2 separate regions of the Homo sapiens genome follow, and region 1 is linked to region 2. The links come from fine-mapping of genetic effects on gene expression. Tissue or cell type: stomach. Region 2 holds a variant in brackets; the other region holds the start of a gene. All regions are shown on one strand. Distances are from middle to middle. Region 1 holds the start of TRIM36 (tripartite motif containing 36). Region 2 has its middle 25 kb from the start of TRIM36.

Evidence for each region.
Region 1: TRIM36 starts here. The variant in region 2 is fine-mapped to the expression of TRIM36 in stomach (GTEx, PIP above 0.99).

What each region holds. Positions count from the first base shown.
Region 1 is chr5:115,168,498-115,171,405 of GRCh38, reverse strand. TRIM36 (tripartite motif containing 36) reads left to right here and starts at 1,498. Exons shown (of 10, transcript NM_001300759.2): 1 at 1,498-1,798. The coding sequence starts at 1,772. RefSeq lists silencers at 1,083-1,502, 2,233-2,322.
Region 2 is chr5:115,193,786-115,196,693 of GRCh38, reverse strand. No RefSeq gene overlaps it. Among named protein-coding and RNA genes, the nearest start is that of TRIM36, 25 kb to the right of the region's middle. The variant A/G (reference allele first, on the strand shown) is at 1,240.

The DNA of each region.
Region 1 (2,908 bases), 25 kb after region 2:
AAGCCTTCCCAAGTCTAGCACCTGCGGCCACGCAACGGGCATTAATCCGGATCAGAACAGCCCAGGCATTATTACCTGGCAAAGCTTTCGTCCTCTGTTCACCTCATCTGTAAATGGAGGGTATTCCATTAGAGAAAATTGCTATAGTCCCTCAGTGTTTTTAATTCTACACTCCTTATTTAGATGCCGGATTGGAGACGAGGCTACCGCTGCAGACAGGGCTGTGGGAAGACGACGGAACTTGCCACAGCGACAGACTTCTCCCAAACAGGAAATAAAAGTGGGAAGCATTTTAAAACCTAAACGAGATGTCTCGCTACAGCTCTGTAGTCCCTACTTACCCAGCAATTTAGGGCATCTGTTCTTAAAGCCTAATACATAGGAATGAATTGTTTAGCTAGCCAGAAAGGCAGTGCGTGATCTAATAATCCTAAATTAATTTGTTCTCCGTGTGTCCTGAAAACAACACCAGAAACACACTTGGGCCGTGGCAGGTGAAATGTGCGCCGCCAGTCCTTGAGCTGGCGCGCGCCTTAACGTTCAGCAGCACTCCCCGCGGGGGTGCGGGGGTGCCGGAGCCGCTCAGGACCCTCTGTCCTGGCCCTCAGGAAGGAAAGCGTAGGCCCGGGTGGCGGGGGGTCTCTCCCTTGCCGCGGCCTTTTAACTTCAGTCCCTGGCCAGCATCCGGGAGAGGAATCTCCACCCTGCAGGCGGTCCCCGCGCTACTGGGCAAGAACGTGCGGTGACATCGCGACTTGGGGGTATAGAAGCAGAAAGCGGGATATGACTGCTCGGTGCCCAGTCAGGGACTATTAAGTTCACCCAGCAAGTGAAGCCAGAAGAGAACTGGGACAAGCCGGGCGGGGCCAGGGAACCCCAGGCCGCGCCTGGCTAGGGACCGCGGAGAGGGCGGGCGGGGTCTCACTCTGGTCGCCTCGCGCAGCTCTGCCGTGCTCGCCGCGGCCATTCAGGGAAGGTGGCTTAGGCTCGCCCTCGCCCGCACCGTCCTGTGCCGAGCCTGGAAGCGGGGCTTCGAACCGCGAGTGAAGAAAGCGCAGTGAGAGCAAACTGAAGGGCGGAATGGCAGCGCAGGGCCAGGGGCCAGGGGCCAGGGCTGCAGCCGGCTGCTCTGCTGCAGCGGAGCCTCCCCGCCCCGGCGCCGCCCTCGGCACCCGCCCACCGCTCCCCGCTGCCCTCACTTCCGTTCCTCAGAGCCCCCCAGCCTGGCATAGGGCGACGGGCGACTACCCGGGTGGGAGGGAGGGGCTGATGCGTAGGGGGAAGGTGGCGGCGGAGGGCGCCGAGTCCCAACCGCGTGCCACACCCACGCCCAGCCGAGTCCCGCTCAGCCTACCACTCAGACACCCGGCCTACCAGCCCCAGGCGGCCCCGCCTCTTTTGTGCGACTGGCGCTGTTGCCTGGGCAACGACCAGGCCACGCCCTGTCCACGCCCCGCGGTGCCCCGCCCAGGTCTCTGCGCGGCGCCGTTCCCAGCCGCAGTCCGCAGGAGCCGCTGCTGCAGCCGGCAGCTGGGCGGGATTCCCGGGGTAGTCGCTGGGAGCAAAGCTCGCTTCTCCCGCGCCTGTGCTTTTGCCTGCCCCGGCTTACTTCTCCCCGCGTCGGTCCGCTGGCCACGTACAGCTGACCAGCTCATCTTCCAGCTTCGGACCGAGGCTCCACGGCCGCCGCAGGGACCCGCCCACCAGACCCTGCGCTCGGTAGCCGGTGTGAGTGGAACGTGCCGCTGATGACACCTGGCAGAAGGCAGCCATGGAGGGCGATGGCTCAGATTCGCCGGTGAGTGCGGAGGGGACCGCCGCCCCCACCTCGAGGGCGGTGTGCCGACCGCGGCTCTTTCTCTTTCCTCCGCCGGGAGCCCGGAGGGAGCCTCCTCCCGGGAGAGCAAAGGCAGGCGTGTGGGGATCCCGCTTCCTCTTCGCCTTCTCCCGCCCGGGGCTAGGTTCCGCAATCCGGGGCGTCCCCTTTCTATCCCCGAGAGCCGGACGTGGGGTCCCCTGGGCCGGAGAAGAGCGCAAATCCGATGGTTGCCCACCTGAGCACCTCGGGGGAATCATGGAGGGTCTCTCTAATGGAGCTCAGGCTGTAGAATTAATTAGCGTTTGGGAGTCGGGTGCGGGCAGAAAGCTGGGGCGCGTCCCTCGCGCTTGCGGGGCCGCCCTTTGTCTAGGCGTCTTGACCCCCGCGGGCCCGGCCGGCTGCCGCCGCCTGGGCCAGAGGCTCCTCCCCGGCTTCGCCTGCCCGCGGGGGGCGGGCCGGGGCCCCGGCAGCTGTCAGCCTACAAGTGTTTTTGTTTAAAGGTGTCGAATGTGCAATTCTTCCGAAGTTTCTCGAGGAACTGCTTAATTGAGGGAGCCGCCACATCACACTTAATCAGTTTGTTTCTCCCTCAATGACAGATGAACTAAATTTTCTCTTGGGTAAGAAATACTTTATGTCCATTGTGATTAAAAAGTCAGATTCAAGACACTGCTTTATGTACAAGAAAATGGAAATGATTTTAGATCCTCCCCCAGTGACAAGTAAACCTGAACTGACCATATTTATACATAAAATGGAATGTAAGAACCTATTTTGGATATCCCGGACAAGATTTTCTTTTGAATTAGGTGCCAAACCCTTTGTGAAATGAGATAGGATGTGAATATTCTGTATTCTTTGATGTGAATTGTGAGGTTTAGTTATCTTATTTCCAAATCTGTGAACAGTTGGGAGGTGATATGGCTCTTCATCACATATTTGAGTGATGCAGCAAGAGACTGCATCGAAACACCCACTGACAATGATAAAACCAGTTGGCTCTAATGCAGTTAAATTGTCAGAGATTATTGAAGCACTTGGTGTCACTTTAGGGAGAATAGGTTAGCATACATTTTAAAATTTCATTAC
Region 2 (2,908 bases):
CGTTTTTTGGATTTCCTTGCATTGGGCTTTGCCTTTCTCTGATGACTCCCTGATTAGCTTAATAACTAAGCTCCTGAATTCCTTTTCAGGTAAATTTTTGGTTTGGAGCCATTGCTGATGAGCTAGTGTGATTTTTGGGGGATATTAAAAAGCCTTGTTTTGCCATATTACCAGAATTGGTTTTCTAGTTCCTTCTAATTTTGATAGGCTCTGTCAGAGGGAAAGTCTAGAACTGAAGGCTGTTCAGATTCTTTTGTCCCATGGGGTGTTCCCTTGATGTAGTACTCTTCCCCTTTTCCTATGGATGCAGCTTCCTGTGAGCTGAGCTGCAGTGATTGTTATCTCTCTTCTGAGTCTAGCCATGCAGCAAGTCTACCCGGCTCCAGGCTGGTACTTCAGGTTGTCTTCACAGAGTCCTGCGATGTGAACCGTCTATAAGTCTCTCAGCCATAGATTCCAGCACAGTATTTGGGTGTCTCCTGGGTCCTGCAGGAGCAGTCCACTTTCTTCAGATGTTCTGTGGGTCCTCTCTGGATTTCTGGTTTGTTCTCGCAGTCGTTCTGGAGCAAAATTCATGATGAGAGCCTCTGCATGCTGCTCTGAGTCGGAGCTGCAATTTAGTCCTACCTCCCGTGTGCCATCTATTTTCACTGCAATTTATTAAGATGAAATTTTATGTAAGTCATAGGAGATTGCAAACTGGGTTATGACTGTTGAGTGTTTAATACTCATAGTATTTGTGGAAGATAATGCTTCTTCTATGCTTGTAAATTTGTAATAGCATAATGGAAGTTATCCATTAAATGTTGCTAGTCTACACAACATGTATCTGGAATGTGCTTTCCTTCAGCATTCTATGATATTATAGTTGGGGGAGAGAGAAAGTGGACAGAAGGGCATCAATGAAGATGCTTGACTGCATCAAAAGCAAATGTTTTTCCCTCCAGTTCTTTTCGTTTTGTAATGCTGCATCTCATTTTATGTTTCACTGTTGTCTGAAGAGGGGGCAAAAATCATCAACTGAGAAAACAACTGAAAAAAATTCTTACGGGGAATTTTTTTATTTCAAAAATTGGTTTCCTTACTAACAAACTTTAGGTAATTTAGCTTAAACTGGGCTTAAACTTCAGGGGACCTAAAGGCATTAATCTTTTCTCCTTAAACACAGTACAAAAAGAGTTTCAATACTAGATGACCCAGAGGAAAGGTATTATATTACCCAAACCTGCAAGTATTATC[A/G]TACTTTTCAGTCATTGAGACAGTTCTTTCTTTGGTATTTTTTAAGTTAAGCCATCATATTAGAAAAAAATTTAAAACAGAATAGAAGAAGTACTATTGCCCAAAAGATCTCGCAGAGCTGACCCTTCTCCCATTCCCCACTTCTCTCCAGAGGCAACACCTGTGAGCAGTTTCTTTTCTAGAAATTGACCTGCAGGTACAATCTCATATGTGTGACTATGTTCCTACACACATACTTATATACAACGTTAACCTAAAGGCCAACTGACTCCACAGAAATTCACATTTCTTTCATTTCATACAGTCTCACATTTTCCTATTCCAAATATCTATTATAGGTTGTTAGGAAAAGTGACCAAATTAGTAATCATTGTCACAGTTTCAAAAAGGGCTAAGGAGTGACTTGGCAAAATGACTTATAATCTCATAAAAATAATTAAGCAATAATAACTGAAAGGTCATAGAACAAGAGTTTTATGTTTTAATTCTACTCCTCCTTTGTTGCCACTGCATGACAGAATCTTTGGACTTTGAGCCTTGGCAGAGTTGGACTGCTGCAGAAACCACCACAGTCTGGCATGAATTAAGTCCCACTGCAGAGGTGAACTGGAGCCAAGATTTCAATCTCCAAATGATTACTACTGGGGGAAAAAGGCTCTGGGCCATGCTGACAATGAATATCAGCTGCTTTGGGTAACTGGGACTGTTTGCACTCCTCTCCCCGCAGCCGAAAAAACCAAATTGTGGTTCTTATAGTACTGACTGGATTATTTGTGCTACATTGCTTCCCCACTGTCTTCACATCATAGAACATGTCGAAAAAAATTATTGCATTTGTAGGGCACCCGCAGTAAACCCAGGAGGCAACTTATAGGCAGAATTCACCATCCTGGAAGCTCTAGTTGAATCGTGTCCCAGTTCCTTTCAAGGGCTGAAGGTATGTCTTAGTATATAGAATTCATTCCAGGTAATAGAATTTGTAATTTGTAAATATTTGCTACTTAACACATGGTCTGTAGACCAACTTTATTGTAGCAGGACATCATCTGGGGCATTTTAGAAAAGCTGACGCTCAGGCCCCACCTGAGACCTATCTATGCTGCCCAGGCTGGAGTGCAGTGGCTATTCACAGGCATGATCATAGTGTAATACAGCCTTGAACTCCTGGGCTCAAGCACTCCTCCTGCCTCAGCCTCCTGAGTAGCTGGGACTACAGGTGCAAGCGACTGTGCCCAGCTAGCATCTATATTTTAACAAGGTCCCCAAATGAGTCATATGAGCATTAAAATTTAAGAAGTGTTGGTCTACAGGTAATGTCTACCTCCGTGGCATGCTTTAAAAGGCCTTGGAGATCTACTCCCTACCTATTTTTCCAGCCTCATCTTTGGTAACTGCCTCTTTCCGACCCAATGATAGTAAAGTATCTAACACCTGAAGGCACTGTACTCGCTACCCTAGTGCCTTTGCACAGGTGGTTCTTAGCCTAGAATTAATTCTCTTTACCTGCCCTTTTGAACTCTTATTTATCGTTCAACTCTCAATTTAAAAGCCAAGCTTCACCTGCCCCAGCAGATCTAGGCAGAGGGAGCGACCAGCCTATTATAAAGCCTTCCTTCCTCTTGCTTCCTAGTTCTGACTATGTGCCTTTATTATGGTACTTACCACATTG